7 linked regions of the Homo sapiens genome follow. The protein of the gene in region 1 interacts with the protein of each later gene in a pairwise test. Each region holds a gene or a part of one and is shown on either strand. Other genes may lie near its edges.

Region 1 (3,500 bases):
TCCCTTTGCAGACAATTCCCAAATTTGTATTTCAAGCCCAAACCTCTCTCCCCGAATCCAGACTCTTATATCGAACTGGCTACTCAGCAACTCCACTTGAATGCAACGGACATCTCAATTACACCTGCGTCTTCTCCATCTTGATTGAAGGCAACTAACTTCATCTTCCTCTTTTTCTCCCACGCCTGATCCGCCTTCACAATTCAGAATCCTTCCACTTCTCACAGCTGTACTGGATCCCTCCAGGTGGGGGCGACTCTCACCTGACTATTACTATAGCCTCCTAAGTGGTTTCCCTACTTGCAACCTTGCCTGTATAATATCTATCCTCCACACAGCAGGCAGGGCGATCCTTTAAGAATAGAAGTTAGATCATGAAAATGCTCTGCTCTGATCCCTGCAAAAGCTCGCCACCTCCTTACAGTCACCGCTGAACTCGTAGCAGAGGTTCAGGAGGCCTTGCTATGGTTCCCTGCGGCTGCTCTCATCTCACTTCCCCTGCTCATTAGGCCCCAGCCACACTGGCCTGCCTGCTCTTCAGAGTTTCCAGGTGTATGCTGTTGCCTTGCTCTTCCCTCTTCTTCTGCTCTTCCTCCAGGGGTCCCTGGGCCTAGCTCCATGTCTCCTTCCAGTCTCTGCTGACCTGTCACCTTTTCAATGAGGCCCACCCTCATGTGCAGATGACTCCACTGCCCCCGTGCTCCAATTCCCTTCACCCTGCCCCCAGACTTTCTCTTTCCATCCTTCTTCTGTGTTTTGGCTGTTGTTTATTATCCATCTCTCCTTCCTAGAATATTGGTTCCCTGAGGTCAGAGATCTGTGAGTAAACATTGGCATGTCCCACGTGCCTGGCCTGCACATGGCAGGTGCTCAATAAACATTTGTTGACTGACTAAGTCCTAGAATCAGTAAAAATCAGAGCTGAAAGAAACCTTAAAGAGATCTGATCCATCAGCCCAGTGGTAGCTACAGCTGCTCATCTCAAATGTTAAAAAAAAATGATCTATAGTTATATTTACTATGTATTTATTTTAAAAGTTCCTGCAGTATTAGGAACAGTTTGTCTTCTGTGTCAATTGTGTAGCTTTATGAATGTAAATGCTGCCTATCTGAGAAATGTATCTAGTTATTAGGAAAATCAGATTTCTATATAAGCTTATATTTAATCAGAGTGAAATAATTACCTATGAGATATTGGCATTTCATCCTAATTTTAAAAACACAGACCCGGAAAAAAAAAAAACTGTATGATTCAAATGATGCCCTCTGCCGTTTCTAAAGCAACAGAACATTTGAAAAGATTTCGAAGTTATTTGTTAATATAACTTTATAATATATGCTTTCAAAACACTAAATTTGAATGAAACTGCTTTGTCACCATGAAAGAGAAATAATTTCAAGCAGCTGTTTTTTAAAATTGGAAACTATATTGTTCTTACTTTTTAAATAATTACTAAAGTGATAATAAAAACATAATTTGAGTATAGAAAAATTATTTGTCATGGTAATTTTAAAGTGCTAATAAAATTTACTTTGAAAAAAATGCCTGGAACAAGCCATGCTGATTCCCTGGATGGAATCATGGCAGTAAGAAAACTGTCACACATACCCCGATACTTTGATAAGCCCATATTTTGAAATACTAGACTCATTTGCGAGTACTTTGCAACAGACAAAATAGCAGGTGATGAAACTGAAGGCTTTCACTTCCATATACAAACCCAGTTGTCTTTCCTTCCCACTAAGAAACTTCCTTGGTTCTCCAGCCTTCATAGCAACCTTAATAAGATTCGATATGAGAAATTCAACAAATATTCATCAACAGAACATATACTGCTCTCTGAATTAATCACACCCGTTTCTATTCCAAATTGTTTATACCTTTATAACACTACTTAGTTTATTATCTTGTATTAGAACCAACCCTGCCTATTTTTGTAGCTTATTCATAAATATTATCTCCTCCATGTGCCTGTATGCTTTCTAAGAGTAAGGAGAGTATCTTACTGAATTCAGATAAATTCACCAACATTCACTGAGTGATAACAGTGCTTGGCAATTGGAAGGATGGAAAAAATCTCTGTTGCACTAGTCCTGTAAAATTACTGTTGTTACTTTATCATCTGCATTAAAAACAATCAAATAGCCACCTTGTTTTTCCTCAAAAGTAATGTGTAACAATTTTCATATAATTGCTAAACAAGACAGTTTATACTCAAAGAGGAACTCCTCCTAAAAACAATAGAATTCAAAAAAATTGGTTTTGGGCTGGGCGCGGTGGCTCACGCCTGTAATCCCAGCACTTTGGGAGGCCAAGATGGGAGGATCACAAGGTCAGGAGTTCAAGACCACTCTGGCCAATATGGTGAAACCCTGTCTCTACTAAAAATACAGAAATCAGCCAAGCGTGGTGGTGCGTGCCTGTAGTCCCAGCTACCCGGGAGGCTGAGGTAGGAAAATCGCTTGAACCCGGGAGGCAGAGGTTGCAGTGAGCCAAGATCATGCCACTGCACTCCAGCCTGTGTGACAGAGTGAAACTCCGTCTCAAAAAATAATAATAATAATAAATTGGTTTTGTCTATCAGAATTGACCGCACAACTGCCTGCCACATCAGTCAGGGTGCTTTTTTGTTTTGTTTTTCACTGAACATTTTATAACGTGATAGCAAGCACTCCTTACCTTAACAAAACTCATCCGGATAGTACACATCTTGGTCAGTTCATACACGACTTCAAAGCCGTGGTGAACTGACTGGGCCAGGAGCTGAGCGAAGAGCTGGTTGTTGAAGACCTTGAGGCTGCAGCCGCTGGGGATCTTGCAGACGGTAGCTGGGTGGAAGCCGTGTTGATAGTTGCAGTTCCGGCTCTGCACAAAGATGCTGCTGTCACTCACGCACTCGGCATACACCTCTCCCCCGACGTAGTACAAGTGCACACCTGCAGACACAAAAACACAGCCTTCCTTCACATGCCCTTTCATAGCGTGCCTCTCCCACTGATTCCTGAAACCCTAGGAGATGTGACTCTCCCATCAGGTTGTCAGATCACTGATCAGATGAATGAGATGTGTGACCTAAATGCCGCTTAGTTTAATGATAATCTGTGCTTTTTCCACAAATCCATTTAAAAGTGGATCGCAGCTGGGTGCGGTGGCTCACGCCTGTAATCCCAGCACTTTGGAAGCCCGACGTGGGCAGATCATTTGAGGTCGGGAGTTCAAGACTAGCCTGGCCAACACAGTGAAACCCCTTCTCTACTAAAAATACAAAAATTAACCAGGCATGGTGGTGGGCACCTGTAATCCCAGCTACTCGGGAGGCTCAGGCAGGAGAATTGCTTGAACCTGGGAGGCAGAGGTTGCAGTGAGCCAAGGTAGCGCCACTGAACTCCAGCCTGGGTGACAGAGCAAGATGTCATCTCAAAAAAATAAATAAATAAAAATAAAAAAATAAAAGTGGATTGCAACCCATGTTAACAATCACTCCCAAGAACCAGTCAGT
Region 2 (3,500 bases), on another chromosome or scaffold:
TCATGCATTAGGTATCAAAAAGTATTTTGAATTACAAAAAATCTGAACAAACAACAGTTGAATGTGCTGAGACAAAATGACTGATAGCTTCCACTAAAGGAAGACTTCTGTGTCCAACAGAGGACTGGTGTGGGTCATTTAGACAATAAACCAGCTTCTGCTTATTTAACATTTTAAACAACAGGAAAAAACAAGAAGTTTTACCTTCACTACTTCTATCTCCTCCAAAACTTAATACAAAAACTTTTATATGTAGTATCAGAAAGGGAAGCACTGTCATAAAAAATGACATCTAAAAGCACTTTTATTTTTGTTTTCAGTTCATTCATAAATATTTTTGTACACCTTTTTCACATCACCTATTCAGGGATCAACAATCATTCAACATAATCTGTTAAATCTAATTCCGTGATCTCCCATTTAAGAACTTCAATAATCTCAGCCCAATTTCCTGTTATTTCATATATATGGACCCTCTACTCCAGAGAGCCCATTTACCTTAATATTAGATCCTCACCACAATTACACCTTTAAGCTCCCCATTCTTCTATATCTTCCTCCAAACAATCAGGGCCAGTTTAAGCCCCTCTCTCTTCATAGTCTTCCTAAGTAACTTCAACCCAGAACTGAACCTCTCTAAACTTCCAAGTACCCACTGTATAAAACTCGATCTTGTACTTAATAACAAATATGCACAATGTTAGATGTTGTGTGCTGTAGTCGTAAGTTTCAACTCATCTACAACAAAGTACATTTCAAGATAAGGAATCTCCTTTTATAAATCTCTTCTTTTTCAGCACCCTCTAAGAGGGCAGATCTTGTATGGAACCAGATATGCACTCACATTAGCTGCTGATGAGTATTTGTTTTTGTTTTTTGAGACAGAGTCTCACTCTGTGGCCTAGACTGGAGTGCAGTGGCATGACGCACTGCAGCCTCAACTTCCTGGGTTCAAGCAATCCTCCCAAGTAGCTGGGGCTACAGGCATGCACCACCACATCAGGCTAATTTTTTATTTTTAGTAGAGATGATGTCTTGCTGTGTTGCCTAGGTTGGTCCTGAACTCCTGGGCTCAAATCATCCTCCTGCCTCAGCCTCCCTAGGGGTTGGAATTACAGGCATGAGCCACAGCACCTGGCTGAATATTTGTAAATGAAGATGCTTCAACAATTTATTTAGTATAGCCACAAATCATGCCCTAATTCATGTTTCTTAATTTACATTCTAATATCAGATTTTCTAAATGCAGAAAATCTACATTTAGAATTTTACAGAATATTTCTCTATGCTAAATACTATACTCCTATATACAGTTTTAGACAAATAAGCTGTGATGGAATAAGATAAATATCAACTATATGAAACATAACAGAACTTGGAAGACAAGGAATAAGTTTCAGGTCCCTTTTATATTCTGTCAAGCACAATTGTGGCACACAGTAAGCACTTGATAAATATGTATTGATAAATAAATCATCATCTACTAATAAACATCATCTCCAAATGCTAAATTTGGGGTAACCAACTAACTAAAATATTCTAGGGTCTTAACAATTCCTTAAGTAGCTGATTTTAATGAGCCTAATTTTGAAAAATTTATATTCTACACTCAGCTGCCAACCCCTGAAAAATGAAAACAAGCAAGTAAATTATGGCAAACGATGCTAATATTATTTCACAACATCGTTTCTCAATGTGTCACACCAGAACACACTACCACGTACACCTACCATGTACAATGCATTATGTTGGAAGCCTTGTGCTAGACACTGTGAAGATAAAAGAATGAGATCTCTACCTTGAAGAGGCCAAAAACCCAGTTAAGTTAAAATGTAAACAACTAATTATGTAAGACAGAACGTGAAAGTCATCCTGAAATATGTTACAGAAGGAGAATAGGAGAGTAAGGAGTAAAAATTTTAAAGGAGTCACTGGAAGAAAGTTAAGTGTAAGTATATATATTTCTAAGAGATACAGGCCAGGCGCGGTGGCTCACACTTGTAATCCCAGCACTTTGGGAAGCCGAGGTGGGTGGATTGCCTGAGGTCAGGAGTTGGAGACCAGTCTACAATCCCAGCTACTCAGGAGGCTGAGGCAGGGAATCGCTTGAACCAAGGAGGTGGAGGTGGAGGCTGCAGTGAGTCGGGATCGCACCACTGCACTCCAGCCTGGGCGGCAAAGCAAAACTCTGCCTCAAAAAATAAAAATAATAATAAAAATAATAGATACAAGATGTGAGAGGGGGTGTCAATTCAAGTAGACAAAAAACCAAAGCAAAAATGCTAAAAAGTTGCTGGGTGTGTTCAGAGAGGAAGAAACAGTTCAATCTGATTGCAGCCAAGGATGTAAAACAGAATTACGAAACACTGGGGTCTGAGAAGTTGACAGCATTTGCATATATTTCCTATTTACAAGGCTACTAGAAGCACTTGGTTTTTGAGAATCAAAAAAAGTAGGGGACATTCATATGATCTCTATGAACCTGCTCTCTAAGGACACAAAGTAGCTTAAATTACAACTGAAGAGAGAATTTCAAGAGATGGGCTACTGTGAAAACTCACTTTAGGTTTCCAGGGCATCGCACATGTTTACCAGTATAAAATCTTTAAATTAAGTTCATCTGACCTTAAGAACACAGCACAAGGTACATCTATTTATTCAGAGCACTGCCCACGGCTAGAGTGAGTAGGAGTTTTGAAGTCAGGGTAGAACTCATTGGTTATGACAGCCAACAAGTTGATTAAAATACACACTGAAATGCTGTAACTTCAAGTCTTGAAGGCTTGTTGATGGACACTTAGGCTTATAAATAGCCTTCAAAAATCCATGTATGGGTAATAACACCATATTTATAGAAATATGTACATGCTCTCTAAAAAGAAACAAACAGAATAAACTACAATGATGTATACTATTATAAATTGGAAACACTAATCATTTAGCACTGCATTAAAACATATTGGCCAGGCACAGTGGTTCATTCTTGTAATACCAGCACTTTGGGAGACCAAGGCGGGTGTATCACGTGAGGTCAGGAGTTCAAGACCAGCCTGGCCAACAGAGTGAAACCTGTCTCTACTAAAAATACAAAAAATTAGCTGGGTGTGGTGGCAGGCACCTGTATCCCGGCTACTCGGGAGGCTGAGGCAGGAGGATTGCTTGAACCCGGGAGGCAGAGGTTACAAGTGAGCCAAGATTGCGCCACTGCACTCCAATCTGGACAACACAGCGAAACTCAATCTCAAAAAAAAAACTTATTTAGGTCCTCAATGTACTTTATCAACTATTACATGCACATAATGGTCAATTAAAGAGTAACAAAATGGCTTGCCCTAATTCTTTTTAAAATGTATGATTTAAAGTAACTTGCAGTCTCCAAAATATATACTGACTAAAAGTCTCAAAGTCATTTTAGCATTAACGATGCAAAATAAGAATCAAAATTTTAAAAATAGGACATTAAGCCATTACAAAATATTTCCACTTACAGTATCTTATTT
Region 3 (3,500 bases), on another chromosome or scaffold:
ATAATCAGATAATTTGAATGATATTTGTTTAAGCTGTACAACCACTTAAATTCATTCCTGAGCAAGGAATTTTCCTTTATTTAAAAAATATTTTCAGAGAGACATTTTACATTAAACATTTAGAAGTTTAATATATAGCAATATTGTATTGTCAATTGTAATCATTGATCATTTGAAAGTCTCCCTCATCTGATATTTTTATCAGTCTCTGCAAGGAATCATATTAAGGTATTTCTGAGAAGTTCAGGGCTAGATATAAATATAGCTTTTGTGTCTTTCTTCCTTGCTCATCTCATGTGATTTCGGGTAGCCAAGAGTCACAAGAATCATAAGTTTTCCATCTGAGAGCACATCAAGTCACTGAGGGGAAAACAGTTAACAGCATTTTTTTTTTTTTTGCATAATAGTGGTAATGTTCAAGATTTCTGCTGCACTTCCTTCCTCATTGTCATTTTCTTATGAAAAAGTAAAGAGAAGTTACAGTAGTTGGTTGCTTCCCAAATTAATAAATGCTGGGTATACAAATGTGTAGTCAGCACATTGTGTAAATTGCATTTTGTAGTATTATTTAGTTATAACCCTTTTTATCCAAAGACTGTGCAACTGAGATCTTTCAGAGACATTGGATGAGATGGTGTCACTTTTACCTAGAAAGTACTTTGCTTTGATTCACTGAGCATCAATCTTTTTCTTTTTTGAATATCAAGCTCAATGTGTGAAAATGAAACACTACTAAGCCTTTTCAGGTATGTATTTGAAATGTTATGTATATGCCTATTTAATTAAGTTTCAAGTGAATCCATATTCAGAAGGACATAATGATACACAGTTTAGGAATATTGCCTCCGAATTAAAGGCAATCTGGCTGTCTTTCTGCCTTATGTCTAACCTTAAACATTCTCTAAGACACCTCTGACTCAGCATACTGTGTCTAAAACCACATAGTATATTTATTTTTAAAACACTTGTAAAAGTTTGCGTCTTCCAGTCACCCCTGGGATGAAGATTTGTAAAAATAAAGAGCACTTTCTTCCTTAAGATGAAGAATCCTTGAATAAGCAGAAAGAGGCCAAGATGCAGGTGATTTATTTAAGTCTGTGTCAATGATAATGATGTCATGGTTTCCAGCACACTGTGTCCACCCCATTGTGGGACGAAAGAATGTCAAGGACAATTCCAAACACAAAACTTTGATTGTGCTGGAACCGGAAAGGCACAGTAAGAACTCCACTGCGCTCTTCAGTTCAAAACCTGCATCCTGCAGACAAACTCCAGAAAGCATGGGAGAAAGAGCAAAGGAGAGAGGGCTTATCTCAGAGTAAAGCTATGTGCTGAGGTATGACTGTAGACAGCCAGGCACCGGGGATAAAACACTACTAAATAAAACTGCACCAGAATTAGAGTTATTGTCTATATTGTGTGTTTTGAACAATAAATAAGAAAAATATTTTATCAGAAGAAAAATGTGTTATCTCAGAGTCAGGATAAACAATGAGTAGCTTTTTAAGACCAATTTCTTTTCATTAGACATCAAGGCACCACATCAGAGCACTTTTAGAACAATAAAAAAAAAGAACAATAAATCATTAGTAATCATTAGAACTAGACAGGTAATAGCCGGGTAAGTTTCTTGGTCCAAATAGCCAAATGAGATTAGGGATTTACATTTTATTTAATTATTGTGACTCCAGAATGCTGGTTTATTTACCATAAAGGTAAGAGCAAAGAACAGCCTGTTCACTTGTATCACAGGCACCATTAACTACAGGTGATAACAGGGTCTGCAATGCATTCATATGGATTACTGTATATTAAAACGTTTAGAATTATGATCCATGACCAACACAAAAAGCTGCCACAATCACAAACTACTACAGCTTGACATTGCTGTTTGGCTGTTTTTCAACTATTGATATTAAATTTTTTAAATTAAACTTTTTTAAAAGAGGTTTGGGGCTGTACATTTGTTACATTGTTATTAATTATTCTTCTAAGGGTGGAAATTCTAGTAATTGGTCCTTACCCTTGATTTCTAGATATTAAAATTTAAAGCATCAGAACATTCATTCTTATAGCCCTGCATATCTAGTTCATTAACAAATATGAATAGCTAACACCAGCTCATTTAAATAGTATGTCTTACATGAGTTCTCGCCACACTCTGTTTCTGTCACACTGCTCCCAAGAATCATTGGCTCTTATTATACATGTAAATGGCTATCATAAAAATAAAAATTTCATTTAAGATTGTTAATGACTTCTGCAGCAGTCAGACTTCCTTTAATGATCATCCTCTGCCCCTAATTAAACGTATTTATCTTTCAAGCATCTTTGGCTGAGTTCTCCCTCATAGTTGAAAATCTAAAACCTTAAGGCTTAATGGATATAACGATAAATGTTTATGTGTGGGATTGCTGAGATTCGAGAAACCTTCACCGAAAGCAAAATTGGAAACGGAAAGAGTAGAAAACTTGGCACAGTATGTTAGGAAAACGAAAAACAAATACACTGTACTCAAATTGCCATCAGTCTTTTTTCTTTTTCTTTCATCTCACATTTAATTTTCTTTCGTAGTGGAAGTGCTTTTATTATCCTCCTTCCAGTATACCAAACAATTATTCTGCCTATGTTTGATGGTTTATAGTCTGCGACATCACAACAGCATATAGGTAGACTCCTTCCCAGCCACTTCACCTATTTATAAAAATGCTTTTGTTGCTTATGTTGTCAAAGAAAAAACAAGGTGGGGTAAACAATGATAACTCTCAGTGGGTCCTGGGAATAGAGATGAAGGTGACATGAGGTCTGAATTAGAGAGGTCATTTAAACAAATTTTCCAGGCCACTTTACCATGTAAAGATGAGCAGAGAAAGTTCACAGGAATAAGATTTCTTGTATTTTGTTAAACATTTCATACCTTAGCGATTCTCCGTCATAAGTGAATTTTAGACCAAGACATTTCCCGTTTGCACAGTGTTGTCGGAAGTTTTAGTTTGAATATAATTTACCTTAGTTTTATTATAGTTGGCCTGGGACCATTTTTACTTCCCTTGAGAGTCCCACCAAACAGCAGGAATCATTATCAAGTACTTAGCTGATAAATAATAAGAAAGCTACCTGACCAGGTAAAAGTGTGAAATCACATTCACACTTAACAAAAGGGAATCATTAAACGATTGAATTCCAATAGGAGGTGTCAGACAGACACTGAAGCTACATTAAACTGACAGTTATTTGGTTTGAAATGCTACATAATTTCCACACAAAATATTTTTATATACATATATATGTTGTGAGTTTTTACATTTGCTTCCATTTCCTATCATGAAAGTATAGATCTTGATCATGTTACATAATTTGCACATTGTAAATGTGGTGCAAATACCTCATGTTATGTGTTGAAAGTGTGGTTCATGTTTGACTTGCATCAAAACTGAAATATAATCCCTTCCTAAGATGTAACTGCCGCAATGTGATAACATTACTATCACTTCATAATC
Region 4 (3,500 bases), on another chromosome or scaffold:
AGTCTCAGATTCTTCATCCACAAAATAGAAAAGTAATGGTACCAACTCTGTTGGTTGTGAGGAAATGAGATATTATATATGTGGGACACTTAGCACAGTGCCTGGCATATAGTGAACATGCAGTAATGATTGTTTTCTTTGTACTCTCAGGGTCTGGTGCCTAATGAGTCTCAGGGTTTTGTTTTGTTTTTTGAACCAAGCTGAATAATGTAAATGGAAAAATTCTGTTTTCTCAGTGTCTTTCGGTAGATACATCTTATACCATTTTGTTCTCTTCTAAAACAGGGCTTCTTAATCTGTATAAATGAAGGAAGCCACCCCTTTTTCCCTTTTCCCCTGTAACTACCCTTTTTAGAGATTTTAGGTTTTGTTTTTGAGATGTTCTTTTGAATTCATGAAATCCAAGATGAGCCAATCAGGCCCAGCAGACCAAATTAGAGCCAGTTGATAGCATGGTGGGCAGAGAAAAGGGATCTAAGAGAGCAGAGAGGGTAGGTGCAGCCAGTGTCCCTGAGACCAGAAACTGAGCAGACATCTCCTGGCTTGCACAGGAAGGGACCAGAAACAAACTCTGGAAGAAGCCCTAGAAATGAGGCCCCAGTCTTTACCATATTGTCAGTGTAACCTTGCCTACATTACTCAGTCTCCCTGAGTCTCTGTGTCCTCACCTGTAAAATGAGCACAATGGTATCTCCTTCTGGGATGGTGGTAAGGATGATACATTCTACTTGCTGTGTAGGCACAGTGCCTGCCCATAGGAGGTACTTAGTAAATATTGGCCGCTCTACAGGGATGAGCAACTGTGGGTGTTCCTCAGTAGCTGTGACTGAATGCTAACCATATGCTGGGCCCTGGGTTCGATCTAAGTGTGTGTGATGAAAAACATAAGAAAGGGGACCAGTGAGATGTGCTAAAGTGATGTCAGGAAAGTGTGGAATCAGATGACATGGGCAGAATTAGAGAAGAATATAAATTAACAGGAAAACTTCTTTTCCTTCCCTGAGTCGATGAACCACTTGAACCACTCTGGACTTTTTTTTTGGTGGGAGGAGAAGACACGGTCTTGCTCTGTCACCCAAGCTGGAGTTCAGTGGCATGATCTCCACTCACTGCAACCTCCGCCTCCCAGGCTCAAGCAGTCCTCCCACCTCAGCCTCCCAAGTAGGTGGGACTATAGGCACATGCCACCAATCCCGGCTAATTTTTGTGTTTTTGTAGAGGCGAGGTCTCCCCATGTTGCCCAGGCTGGTCTCAGACTCTTGGGCTCAAGTGATCTGCCTGCCTTGGCCTCCCAAAGTGCTGGGATTACAGGTGTGAGCCACCGTGCCTGGCCCACTTTGGAATTTTCCAAGAGATTAAAAATCCACAAACATTTAAAATGTGGGCCAGGCACGGTGGTTCACGCCTGTAATCCCAACACTTTTGGGAGGCTGAGGTGGGCGGATCACGAGGTCAGGAGATCGAGACCATCCTGGCCAATGTGGTGAAACCCCGCCTCTACTAAAAATACAAACATTAGCTAGGCATAGTGGCATGTGCCTGTAATCCCAGTTACTCGGGAGGCTGAGGCAGGAGAATCGCTTGAACCCGAGAGGCGGAGGTTGCAGAGAGCCGAGATCGCGCCACTAGCGAGACTCCCATCTCAAAAAATATATATATATTAAAATGTGATTAATATTTAATTTTACCTCTAATTGAATGATTTACAAATAGCCTTTTGAAATACTTTTGTTTGGAAAGATTTATAATTTTGTTTTATCTTTGTCTTTTTCTCTCTCTTAACATTTTATTTTTCTTTTCCCAAAGGTGGCAGAAAGAGCACTCTATTATTGGAATAATGAATACATCATGAGTTTGATAGAAGAAAACTCTAACGTCATCCTTCCCATCATGTTTTCCAGCCTTTATAGGATTTCAAAAGAACATTGGAATCCGTAGGTTTTCAGTTTCTTTCCTCCGTTCTCTTCCTCCCTTCCTCTCTTTCTTTCCCTTCAGCCTTATTATGTGCCAGATGCTGTCCTTGTTGCTGAAGACGTATGTGAAAAGATAAAATCCTTACCTTCTGGGGATTCACTGACTGGAGAAAATAAACAGATACTTTAACAAAATACCGGTTAAAGTATCTGTTTACTAGACAGGCTTCTTGATCTGTCTATGAAGGTAGCAGATCTTTTGGGGAGGCACTGCAGCTGAGAGGAGAGGTGTGTAGATACTGACAGCATGGCCATGCTTAGACTGAATCTGAAAGGAATTTGGCAGGTGGATGGCATGGGGAGAGCCCTTTCAGACAGTGGGTCCATCCATCATGTTAAAAGGCACAAAGATGTAAAAAGCAGCTGTCAGTTTCTGAGACCTGTGAGTTTGGGAGGGCTGAGGCACAAGGTCTTTTGGGGAGGGTGCTAGAGGATGTGGCTAGAAAAGACTGTGGGACTCGTGTGAGCCTTCACCAAGTAGATGATGAGGAAGTACTGAAGGGTTGTTAAGTGGGGAAGTGGTCTGACTAGGTTTTCATTTTAGTGTGATCTATTTAACAGCCAACTCAGTCGCTATATGTATCTCTTGGAAAGGAAGGAGTTTAAAATCATCAAGGGAAGTTTAACATCCAGCCCTATGAAAGTTAAAGCATTCTGAATTTGAATGCCTTTACATTTTTCTCTGTGGAATAGAAGGAAAATTTAATGTGGTATTTAAAAATTGGGAGATACAATTCAGTATATTCATAATATGTTTATCTTTAAAAATTTTGCATGTAATTATAAAATATCACATTTCTAATTTTTCAAATTTGCCTAATTATATTAATAGAACTTGTAAAAATAAGGAGCTGATAAACAGTTAAGTCCCTTTATACAGATAGTCTCTTGAGGACCTAGAGAACGGTTCTAGCAAGTGTCTGTAACTACTCAGTATACTACATTTGGTGCTTTCCCATCACTGCCCTTGGGAGGAAGGTCATTCTGGAACCTTAACAGAAAAGAACTTAAATTTTCCTTTTAATGGCACAAGGCAGAAGCTACACAGCAAGTGTACTTTCTTGTAAATGTTTTGGAAACATCAGACTCATGGTTTATTTAATATATGGCTAATTTTTACCAATGCATTTTTCAGTGGTATTAGGAGCATGTTTGTTGCAAAACGGAAGCAACGGATATTTTTGCAAAAGGAAAAGCTATTTAGACTCTAGTCTGAAGCTATCAAGCCCATCATAACCTTGTCCTCACATTGCCCAAGAGCTAATTCTTGTTAAGTATGGGCTACCATTTTGGCTGTTTAGCTGTATAGTGTCCCATAGCTAATAGCAACCATCCCAGCTTGCCAGTTATCAGCATATATTTTGGGTCAGCAGGACTGGTGCAGATCAGAGCTAGACAGATAATTCATATTGAACCACCCAACCTACATGAGGGCTTGATTTCATTTCTTTGGATAAGAATAATTTATATATATACACATATATATATAACATTTGTTTCTAGGGAAGTAGCTTCTGATTTTGATGA
Region 5 (3,500 bases), about 23 Mb from region 1:
AGGCTTTCCCAAGGAAGGGACCTGTTAGCTCAGACTGAAGAGGCTAGTAGGAGATGGTCAGGTGAAGAGAATGTTCCAGGCAGAGGGACCAGCATGTACAAGGGCCCTGAAATTAGCATGAGGTTGGCACATACACAGAATTAGAAGAAAGTCCCCTACAAGACCAGATAGCAGGGACTAGATCATGATATACTTATATAGGTCCTACGAAGAATTTTAGTTTGTTGTTGTTGTTGTTTTCTCAAGTGCATTAGGACACCATTGAGAAGATTTGAGCAAAGTCATGATGTGGCAATACCATTTAAGTTCTTTTGTTGAAATCTTATTTCTTACTTATCACTTAAATGCTTGCACTCCATAGAACTCTGTGCATAGACCCTTTGTCATGCTACATATTCTCTCCATACTATGAGTGAACTTCTCTGCTTCCCTGGCTTCAACTGTTCTCCAGAGACTACTGATTTTCAAATCTTCTAGATCCACATACCCATTTCCCTCCTGGACATTTCTACCTAGATGGTCATAACTACCTCAAAACAGGGAATTATACTTCTGGCAATTATGTTTTTATGAGGGAAAAAAAGCTATAATTATATTCTTAAATTAGAAGAAAAATTGTTGGAATTTTGATTTTTGGTTAAACCTTATGAAATTACTGATATGTAATTATTTTTGGTTTAAATGAATGCCTTATTTTTGAGTAAAGTGCATATTTACATGTTTTGTAGATATGTTCTTAGTTATGTCTCTTATTGTTTTTTTCTCCAGTTTGGTGCCTTGCCAGCTGATTGTAATATTCCTTTGCCTCCCTCTAAAGAAGGTGGAACTGGCCACTCAGCACTTCCTCCTCCGCCTCCACTGCCTTCTGGTGGAGGGGTGCCGCCTCCACCTCCTCCCCCACCACCTCCTCCACTTCCAGGAATGCGGATGCCATTCAGTGGTCCTGTGCCTCCACCACCTCCCCTGGGATTCCTTGGAGGACAAAATTCTCCTCCTCTACCAATCCTGCCATTTGGGTTGAAACCAAAGAAAGAATTTAAACCTGAAATCAGCATGAGAAGATTGAATTGGTTAAAGGTAAAAGAAATTAATAGAGGAAAATACTTTTACTTAGATCTAAATCTAATTTTGGATTTATATATACATAATTTCTAATGAGATTTAATTTATGCCTACATAATTTAATTTATATATACATAATTTCTAATGTCACTAATCAAAGTGACAATAAAATAGCTTTTTTTTTAAAGTATTGGGACAAATCCCTTTCATATTGACTAAGACTTTCTGCTTTATAAATACAGTGAGAGTTGATGTTGTTCCAGTGGAATCCGATTTGTAATTAAATTGATAATTAAACATTATTGCAGTGAATCCTATGTTTATGAAGTGTTTCTCAAAAAAAAATGATGGTGTTCTTAGGAAATTTTCTCTATTGATAGATGTTGGGAAAGTGTTAACTAGTTGTCAGAAGCTAATATCTAGTCAGATCTTAAGAATTCAGAATCCTGCAGAAAAATGGTTTCATGGTAACAGAAACATGGAAAATGCTGTATAATGTGTCCTGCCCACCAAAATGTATAGTGCAGGTGAAGATTATTAGAGACTATGAGAAATGCAATTGAGAAGAAGCTAATTAAATCGTATTTCAAATCCTCAACTATTGGATCATGGAAGCCTTTTCTTCCTAATAAGACCTTAACATCCTGCAGAACTTGTATCTTATTGAACACACTTCAGGGAAAAATCTTACAGATACGACTTTATAAATATCTGCTGACAGCTATGATACTCAGTGTATGCATAGTGCTTGACTTGGGACAGGTGAAACACTCACCTATTGATGAATCAGTCTTCTCTCTGATTGTAGATCAGACCTCATGAAATGACTGAAAACTGTTTCTGGATAAAAGTAAATGAAAATAAGTATGAAAACGTGGATTTGCTTTGTAAACTTGAGAATACATTTTGTTGCCAACAAAAAGGTAAGTTTAACATCTTGATTATTTATTAATTTGATTTTAGAATTTTAACATATACTTTTTATGTATCAATTTTCAGAAAACATTATTTTATGAATCCTGTACATGTTATTTTTACATTCCTAATGGGCAAATAAATGGTATAATGAAATAAAGTGCTTAAAAAGTAAATTCTGTTTTAAAAATGCAAAAGGTTAATATAAAATTTTGATTATTAAATTTTCTATATGATATTATTTTTGAAGATATTCCATTGGGATAAATTAGACTTTTGTAAAAGAGGATATTTTCTGTGACAGTTTTGGCATGAGAAGGTCCTTCAGTTTGAAAAATAGAAAAACAAAATGTGTGCTTTCTTGTAGTTAGAATTTTACTACCCTTTAATATTACAGTGACTAGGGGAGCTAGGAGAGGGATAGCATATAGCATTAGGAGAAATACCCAACGTAGATGACGGGTTGATGGGTGCAGCAAACCACCATGGCATGTGTATACCTATGTAACAAACCTGCATGTTCTGCACATGTATCCCAGAACTTAAAGTATAATCCAAAAAAAATTACAGTGACTATCACATAATTTAATTAATTGCTATGAGTCACATGGGATAAAAATATCAGATTTATAATGTCTTCAAAGTTAGCTTGAAAGAGAAGTATCTGAGTAGGTTATATGATCTTTTCATTAAAAGCAATGGCATTCATTTTCCAAAATGTTTTGTGATAGGTTTTACCTGTGCAGTGTGATTTTTAAAAAATTGTTTAGGTATTACATAAGTGAAAATTGAACTTATTTCATCCAATTTCGTGGGCCTGCTACTTACATTTCAAGGCTGATATCCACACAGAATTTTTAAGTATTATATAAAACTTACATTTTAGGTCTGTAGTGCAAAACACTTAGATCAATCATTACCTTTTAATTTTCAAAAAGAAATTTTTCACTATAGACTTATGCCACCTATATCCCTGGGCTCATAGAACAAAGGAAGAGGTGGCAGGGAGAGATTGTACTGGATGGATACAGGTCAGAGACCTTTGTGTAGAGGGTTGAGTTGACTTCCTAAATGTTGACTGTTAGCCAGGCACCATGCTAGATGCTTTATGTATCTGTTTAACTTGAGCACAGCAGCCAAAGAATGCTGGCAGATATTTTAAAAATGTATTAGTATTCCTTTGAATGAGTTTCTGAAAGATTAGAATCTCTTTCTAAAAGGTAATTGTAAATTAAGAAATTATTAATGTAAATTAGAAACTCTCTCCAAAAGGTAATTGTAAATTAAGGTAGTTTTCTAGAATTTGATAAAAACAGTTAACAGATATTTTTGAGTACCATTTATCCTGACTAAAGTATTAAAAATGGTATATTTTTGGTCTTTGAACACAGGGAGAATTTTCTCAGCAAGCTCACCCTAGTAAATTTGTGAATAAGATTTTAATTTTACCTTTTGATTATGGAGGATCAAAATTTTCTTCAAATAAGATTAGTGTACTCTTCTGGCAATCAAGGAAAATACAT
Region 6 (4,223 bases), on another chromosome or scaffold:
AAATACGAAAAATTAGCCAGGTGTGGTGGTGGGCTCCTGTAATCCCAGCTACTTGGGAGACAGAGGCAGGAGAATCGCTTGAACCTGGGAGGCAGAGGTTGCAGTGAGCCGAGATCACGCCACTGCACTCCAGCCCAAGTAAGAGTGAGACTCTGTCTCAAAAAAAAAAAAAAAAAAATTTAAAAAAAATTTTAAAAAATTAAAAAGCAAGCACTGACATTTACAGCTAAGACCATGTTGTTTCTGAGTGTGAAATCATAGTATGCAGAGTGGAGGAATCAAAGCCTAAGAACCAGGCCTGTTCAGAGTAAACGAAGTCAAAGTTCAATAGCTCATAGGCACTCATTCAAGATGAGTACTGTTTCCTCGTCCCTGCATTTTAAATGCTCAGAGTGACTAAGACTAAAACAGAGCACACAGGGAGCAAGGGTTACTTAGTAATTCTACTGTTCACTCTGAGGAAAAGTACAAATGATTAATTAGTACACACTGTTGAGTGAAAAGCACTAACAAAATCAAGGGAAAATATTTATGACTCCCATAGTAAAGTTTAAAAAACACTTTTTAAACTTTCATATGGAACCAAAGTTTGGTGTTTTTAATATTTTGTCCCTATATAATATTTAAAATTTTAAAGTTTCCACATTTGTTCAATTTTTACCTACAAAATTCTAATTATTTTACCGATTTGGCTTTAAGTAATGAGTCAGATTTTGCAATGCTGATAGTAGCCACACAAACTAGTATTTGATTTCAGGTTTTTTTTTTTTTTGAGACGGTGTCTCACTCTGCCGCCCAGGCTGGACTGCAGTGGCAGGATCTCGGCTCACTGCAAGCTCCGCCTCCCGAGTTCATGCCATTCTCCTGCCTCAGCCTCCCGAGTAGCTGGGACTACAGGCGCCCGCCACCATGCCTGGCTAATTTTTTTTTGTATTTTTAGTAGAGATGGGGTTTCACCGTGTTAGCCAGGATGGTCTCGGTCTCTTGACCACGTGATCCACCCGCCTCGGCCTCCCAAAGTGCTGGGATTACAGGCATGAGCCACCGTGCCCGGCCGATTTCAGGTTTAAAACAGGCTTTCCTAAGTATCTGGCTACTTCCCCTAATAATCGCATTAAACAACTGACTTTTCCTAATTATTATACAATTGTTATACAATTCAAAATACCATACCAATATTCTGTATGCTCTAAAACAAACCCCTTTCTACCACCAATCCCTACTTCCATCTCTAAGGTCACCTATAGCAAATTTTGTTCTAAAGCAGTGATTCTCAACTGTGAGATTTTTGTCCCCCAGAGGTAGGGGACAAAAAAAAATTGGCAATGACTGGTGGCATTTTGGTGTGGCAACTAGGTCGCAACTAGGTGGTGGGGGATAAGGGTACTACTACTGGCATCTAGTGGGTGGAGGCCATCTTTGTTGCTATACACAGGACAGCCTGCCCGTCCAACTATGAATTATCTGGCCCCAAATGTCAATTAAGTGTCTCTGCTGGGAAAAGCCTGGTTCTAAACTGAAACAAGCAAATTTGCAAATACAGCTGACAACTTCAAAAAACAATTGCCAAGCAAGTAATTCAAAGTTCACTAAGCTCTGTTATTGGTATAGAGACACACACATAATAAAGGCGTCTTTTTATACTATCAAAATGCATTAAAATGATTAATCATTAATGCAATAAGTGGCAAACACGTCAGCAAAGAGTACTTTTACTACCCAAGCAATTAAACATATACATCTTTTCAAAAAGAAATTCGGGAGACAAAAAAGGAAATGAGGTAATGACATTCTTGACAGTTCCTTTTTCTCCTCTCAGTCACTAGACTTTTAACTGGAGAAAGTTTAATGAGAGAAGGGAAGTTAACCACATGATACTAGTCGGCAGAATAATCTTAAACCAAAATACGTTGCTAAAGTATCTGTTAGAATCCTAACTAATGTTTACCTGGCAAAAGGACTGGCTCCAGTTTTTTAATCTTCGGTTCCGAATTGATCTTATCGTCAGTCTGAAATACATTAGCAAAATAAATCAAAATCTCAATCCCCCCACCCTCCGTAAAATGCTACAGCAAATGTTGTTTTCTAAGTGATGACACATGCGAAAGACACACAGCCCCCCATTTAAATTCTTTCGCATATTAACTGAGCTGTTTTTAAGATCTGCTCATTATCGACTTGGAAGCCTAATAATAAAAAATGTTTAAACTGCCAGTGTCGCTTCCAGGTGTTCACATTTATGACAGACGGGTAACCGCCTCGACCAGTGACCCCAAGCGCTGCAATCATGCTGGCGGTCATACGAGGGAGGGTCGATGGGTTGGAAACTAAAGAAAACCCCAGCTCCCAAGGCTCCCCTGGGCCTCAACACTCCGCAAAACTACGGACGACAGAACTTCGGGCAGAGAATGGCTGCAGAAGAGTTTTACAAGTTTTCGCCGAGCCAGTGGGGGCTCCCGAGAAGGCGCATTTCGCGGCGCCGGGAATCAGGCAGCCGCGCTGCTGTGGGCAGGGAGACGCGCGCAGCCTCCTGGGGTCCTCCAGTTCCCGGGGGTCGGCCTGGAGGCTCCACGGAAGCGCAGAGGAGAGTCGGGCGCTCGCGGGGAGGGGTTGTTTACCTGGGGCGGTGGCAGGAGGTAGGACCTGAAGGTGGGTTTGGGCGGCTTGAGGGAGAACATGGTGCCGCCGCCTTTTCGCCCCGTTCCCGTCGCGGGCCAGTGGCAGCGCCGACGCCTCCGGGCGTAAAGCTCTCAGTGCGGCCGCCCAGGCCCTTTCTGCGGCCAGCCGAGCCGGGCGGACTGACGGGCGGGGATACGGCGCAGCGCCCGCCCGAGCGGGGAGGGGCCGGGCACAGCCAGGCCGACGCGGGCGCCGGGGCCCATCCCCGGAAGGGGCCCGGTGCCCCGCCCCGAGAGACGGCGCGCGCAAGGCCGCGGCCCGCCGCTCCCTGACCGTGTCCCGTGCTAGTGCCGGAACGCAGCGGTGGCGCCAGGTGCCCGCTGGCGGGCCCTCAGCCGGGGCGCCGCGGGGAGCGGAGCCCGACGGCCATCTCAAGAGCGCGGCCTCTGGAGGGTCCTTCTACGGCGGCCCGCAGGGGTCAGGCGGCCCGCGGGGGCCTACGGCGGCCTGCGGGGGCCACGGCGGCAGCGGTGGCTGCCTGGGACGGCGGCGCGGGGCGTCTTCTGGCCGGGCTGCAGTCCTGGGACAGTTCCCTTGACTTACACATGGGCCGACTTCGCCCTCCGGCCTGGGCGAGCATTGTTTTGAAGCTCTCAAGGAGGAGCTCAGGGCAGGGAAAGGTGACTCGGGTCCAGGGGTCAGGCGGTCACCCCGTCTGCGCCCAGGATGCGAGGAACCGGCACTGGGAAAGTGGGCCGGTGCCGCCAAGCACAGGTCACTTCTGAGCTCTTACGGTAATTCTGACTGGAGCAGATTTTGGTGGGAGGGGGCTAGTGGTGTTACATTTTGGTGAATCTATTACTTGAGACTAGGTCCTTCTTATACCTTGAAGAATCAAACCCCAATCCAGCATTTTATGATTAATGCCACAGGGAAGCTTCCATGCAGCCATACCAGTCACAATCACGCTGATGAGTGTTACTCACAGGAACATTTAACAATTTAAATAAAGATTCAAAAAGTTATTCTTTTTCTGAAAATAATTTATCCTGGATTTAGAACCCTACTGATCTTTCAGGTTAACCTGTTTGAATTCCACTCTGCCCAAGAACCGTAACCATAATTGTATTTTTTAGAGTCAGGGTCTCACACCATCACCTGGGCTGAAGTGCAGTGGCATGATCAGGGCTCACTGCTGCCTCCACCTCCTGGGCTCAAGTGATCCACGTGCCTTAGCCTCTCAAGTAGCCGGGACTATGGGCATGAGGCACCGTGCCTGGCCATAATTGTACTTTAAAATGTTAGTTCCATTGGATTAGAAGTGTTAAAATCACTGTCGTGCACACTTTTTAAAAAATTTTTATGAATATGCTGTTATTCCTCTATATTCAACGGATATTTTCTACAAATACTCTTTAAGCAATAATTGGCTTTTTCTTTACACTTAAATGACTCTGTGATTTGGGTTTTTCTGTACAGGTTTTCTTAGGATCTGCAATTCTAATATGTGACCATACAACTGAAAAGTGGAAAAACTCTATTTCCAGATTTATTATTGTCTTAACACTAAATTTTATGGCATTTCCCAGATATCTGGTTGTATT
Region 7 (3,500 bases), on another chromosome or scaffold:
TACCAACCCAGGTTTGCAGACAGCCAGGGTCTGCCCGGGAACTGGCGGTGGATGGGGTGGGTCTATGTGGTTGTTTGAGGGGCTGGGGTGGGAGGTGGTCACTCTCCAGATGTCTTAGCAGAAAACTGGGGGCTAGAGGAGACACAGCTGGGAAGGCGGGGCCAAGAAGGAGGCTGGCAGCCATCCTCCACCACACCAAGCTCCACCAGAGGCTTGGGTCATGCCAGGGACTTGGGTCGGACATGTGAGGCTGCACAAGCCACTTAGCATCCTTGGCTGTGTTTGTGGATGGAGCTGCTCGTCAGCCTACCCTGCCCTGAAGGTGCCCTTCCAGAAACAGCTCCAGCATCTCCTCTACCAGGAAGCCTCCCTGATGGCTGAGAGTCCTCTGCTGCCTCCAAGGGCCCCCTTCACATTCTACTGCTTGGACTGCCTGCTATGGTCCTGTCTCTCTAGAAAGTCTAGAAACTTCTGAGGAGCAGGACTATGTCGCACTCATGTTGTAACCCCAGGAACTAACCCAAAGTCAGGTACACAATAGGTATTGAATAAATGCTGGACAGACGGGTGAATGAACGATAGGATCATGACAGTGCTTCAAGCCCTTGGAAGCACAGCTGTTATGGAGAAGTTTACTGCACAGTGGTAGACGGTGGCACGGCCCGAGTGCCCCACTGCCTATACTCAACCCTAGCTCTGCCACCTCCTGGCCACGTGATGTGAAGCAGGTTACTCGGTGCCTCACTTTGCTCATCTATAAAATGAAGATATTAATGGCATCCTGCCTGTGGAGGTGTTGTCAGGTGAAATTAGGTGACAGGTATAAATGTGGAGCACCTGGCACACAGCCGGTGGCCCCTAAAAATCTGCTCGTGTTATTCCACAGGTCCCAAGATGCTGCGATTCTCTGCCGTGATCCCAGAAAGTGGGTGAAACAGCCTAAACCTGTTCCTGCTGGGAGGATGCTACCTGAAACTCGTGCCCAGCTGGCGGTTCTCTAGGAGGCTCCATCCAAGGGATTTGAATTCCCACAAGCTCTCCTCCATTTAACAAGATTGAGAGTGAAAGTGAAAATGAGCCCCAAGCCCAGCCTTCGCGTGACAGCTGTGGTCAAAACTGCCGCTGTGACTGTCAGCTCCCCGGGCTGTGCGCAGAGCCTGCCGGGTGGTCCCAAGGGTCAATCATGGGGCTGGAGCTTGGGGAGGAAGGGGATCTCCACGCCCTCCCCCGAAGCCAGCTTGGGTGCAGGATGGATTCTGCACACTCCTTTCAAATTCCCCACTCTCCAGGAACCCTCCTGTCCCCCTGCCCTCTCTGCTCACATCATCTGCTGCCCTAGACTTTGGAGGCTTGAATTTCTGCACGAGGTGACTGCCAACAAATGACAAGAGCAGCCATTTAGTGAGCACGTAATTCATTTAATGGTGCTGAACACAGAGCAAGTGCTGCATGAGTATTTTGGTTAGGGTTCACTTGTACCTTTTAGGTTTAGCTCTTATGCAAAGCCTGTGGTTCAGATCCATGTGTCACCCTCAGGTCACTACGTCCCACTGCAGCAGGTATGGGGAGAATCATAACCATAACACCTTCCCTTGCAGTGAATTTCTCTCTCATATTTGTCTTTAGTTTGAACCACATAATAAATCTATAAGCGTATTATAGTTCCTATTCTATAGATGAGGAGACTGAGGCACACTAAGGGAAAAAGTGACAAGGAAGAGACTAGAGGCTACATCTGATTTTACACCAAGTATTCATCCCACACAATGAATAGCAACCACCGGATGTTTTTCAAGATTTGAGTGAAGGCCAGAATCAAACTGAAGACTATGTGTGTGTGTGTATGTGTGTTCATATTCAAAAACACTACATACACGCTACATGTATTATATATATTATATAATATACACACATAATAACATATAACATATAAGTATATAATAGGTAATTATATATTTTTATATTAATAATATAATATATATTATATATATAATATACACACATATACATACTTTCTATAAATCTACTCCAAAAGCTTCAAGGTCTCCCAAATATCACATGACCCGTAGCTAAGGCAATCCTGAAACCTGGCTGCTTGGGCTAGCCTGGGGACACACGAGGAGTCAGGAACTGGGCTGTTCCTTGGCACCCAGGGCGCTCGACCTCCTTCCTTGCAATGCTCTCTCCTTCTGCCAAAACTTATCTTTCTGATCTGCCTTTCCCCCCAGGATCCAGGGTGGTCCTAGGAAACCCAAGGAAACGCTTCCAGCTGGAGTGCTCGGAGGTGTAGGACATTGTTCTCTTCCCTTCCCGGGTCCTGTTGTTTTAGAACCTAATCAATAAAAATTAAGCTGGTGCCTGTGGGTCCTTGTCCTGTCTCCATCCAGGCCACTTTCATAGGTTGCCTCATTTTACTTTTTCAGTACTAGGGAGAAGAGTGGTCTTCCCATGGCGCGGATGAGGAGACTAAGGCCTGGAATGTATGTGGTACAGAGGTTGAGACCACGTCAGCCTGCGCCGTCTTCATCAGGCCCTCTGACACAACATTAAGGGCATGGCAAGGAGTCAGTTGCTCCGTGACCCTAAACCTCATCCCTCTGGAGGCTTCATCTCTGCTCTGGCTAAGAAATGCTCTGACCTTGGTAAGGAAGGGGGGATGGAATCCCAGCCACCTTGCCCTTGACCCCTATGAGTGGCCAAGTCGTAGCCAGGGTGGGCCTTTGGCCATGGGGGCAGTGCTCTCAAGCCTCTGGCTGCCCTGGGGCCTGGTGTCTAGGGCCTCACAGCTGCTAGGAGTTTGAGCCTTTGCTCAGACCCACACCATCAGCTAAGGAAAGCACCCACAAAGGCCAAGCTTCCAGTTTACCCCCAGCCACCACCACCACCGGCTGCGTCATCTCAGACCTTTTGATGCTGATTTCAAGCTCCCGGCTTTCGGGTGCCAGGGCCTTGGGGCTTCCAAGGCTGGGCTGGGGCTGCTGGAGGTGACTCAAGAGGTGTGCTCAGGGCTGCAGGCCCCAGCTGACTCCACAAGACAGGGCTCTTCTCTTTGTATGGAGTAGGGGTGTGACTGCCCCTACATAACCCTGTAGGAGGTGACAACCAGGGATTTGAACCTGTCCAAAGCTGGCTCTGCTCCCACGCCAGCAGACACTCTGTGCCCATTGTATAGAGGAGGAGACTGAGGCTGCATCTGAAATGGAGCGCCTCTTGCTGATCCAAATCTTGGTGAATCTCTCCCGAAGAGTCTAAGACCCTAACGAAAAGTCTTGGTAATTTATTTACTTATTGATGTACATTGAGGATGCCACTCCAAAAAGAGAGCAAGAATGATGGTGAGAGGAAGAGAGGGAAGAAGGAAAAACACAGGAAAAACCTCCCTGTAGAAGGTTTTTTGAATGTGGAAAGTGCCCTGTTGCAATGATGAGCATCCATTCTGCACAGGACATGCCCACTACCTGCGGCAGTGCCCACACCACCAGCTAAGAAAAGCACCCACA

What was found.
Region 2: the proteins of SMAD9 (region 1) and TRIP12 interact in a two-hybrid assay, tested with the Homo sapiens proteins (one large-scale study listed by BioGRID and IntAct).
Region 3: the proteins of SMAD9 (region 1) and ZEB2 interact in a two-hybrid assay, tested with the Homo sapiens proteins (one large-scale study listed by BioGRID and IntAct).
Region 4: the proteins of SMAD9 (region 1) and PPP2R5E interact in a two-hybrid assay, tested with the Homo sapiens proteins (one large-scale study listed by BioGRID and IntAct).
Region 5: the proteins of SMAD9 (region 1) and DIAPH3 interact in a two-hybrid assay, tested with the Homo sapiens proteins (one large-scale study listed by BioGRID and IntAct).
Region 6: the proteins of SMAD9 (region 1) and MTMR10 interact in a two-hybrid assay, tested with the Homo sapiens proteins (one large-scale study listed by BioGRID and IntAct).
Region 7: the proteins of SMAD9 (region 1) and ASB2 interact in a two-hybrid assay, tested with the Homo sapiens proteins (one large-scale study listed by BioGRID and IntAct).

The regions. Positions count from the first base shown.
Region 1 is NC_000013.11:36,850,739-36,854,238, forward strand, and holds part of SMAD9 (mothers against decapentaplegic homolog 9), read right to left. Parts: intron 2,938-3,500; coding exon 2,681-2,937; intron 1,780-2,680; coding exon of another isoform or gene 1,600-1,779; exon of another isoform or gene 1-1,599. UniProt on the Homo sapiens protein: Transcriptional modulator activated by BMP (bone morphogenetic proteins) type 1 receptor kinase. SMAD9 is a receptor-regulated SMAD (R-SMAD).
Region 2 is NC_000002.12:229,912,010-229,915,509, forward strand, and holds part of TRIP12 (E3 ubiquitin-protein ligase TRIP12), read right to left. Parts: intron 1-3,500. UniProt on the Homo sapiens protein: E3 ubiquitin-protein ligase involved in ubiquitin fusion degradation (UFD) pathway and regulation of DNA repair.
Region 3 is NC_000002.12:144,426,120-144,429,619, forward strand, and holds part of ZEB2 (zinc finger E-box-binding homeobox 2), read right to left. Parts: intron 1-3,500. UniProt on the Homo sapiens protein: Transcriptional inhibitor that binds to DNA sequence 5'-CACCT-3' in different promoters. Represses transcription of E-cadherin. Represses expression of MEOX2.
Region 4 is NC_000014.9:63,382,878-63,386,377, reverse strand, and holds part of PPP2R5E (serine/threonine-protein phosphatase 2A 56 kDa regulatory subunit epsilon isoform), read left to right. Parts: intron 1-1,806; coding exon 1,807-1,934; intron 1,935-3,500. UniProt on the Homo sapiens protein: The B regulatory subunit might modulate substrate selectivity and catalytic activity, and might also direct the localization of the catalytic enzyme to a particular subcellular compartment.
Region 5 is NC_000013.11:59,968,429-59,971,928, reverse strand, and holds part of DIAPH3 (protein diaphanous homolog 3), read left to right. Parts: intron 1-768; coding exon 769-1,077; intron 1,078-1,870; coding exon 1,871-1,985; intron 1,986-3,500. UniProt on the Homo sapiens protein: Actin nucleation and elongation factor required for the assembly of F-actin structures, such as actin cables and stress fibers. Required for cytokinesis, stress fiber formation and transcriptional activation of the serum response factor.
Region 6 is NC_000015.10:30,988,829-30,993,051, forward strand, and holds the start of MTMR10 (myotubularin-related protein 10), read right to left. Parts: upstream 2,801-4,223; 5' UTR 2,679-2,800; coding exon 2,619-2,678; intron 2,010-2,618; coding exon 1,949-2,009; intron 1-1,948.
Region 7 is NC_000014.9:93,970,071-93,973,570, forward strand, and holds part of ASB2 (ankyrin repeat and SOCS box protein 2), read right to left. Parts: intron 1-3,500. UniProt on the Homo sapiens protein: Substrate-recognition component of a SCF-like ECS (Elongin-Cullin-SOCS-box protein) E3 ubiquitin-protein ligase complex which mediates the ubiquitination and subsequent proteasomal degradation of target proteins.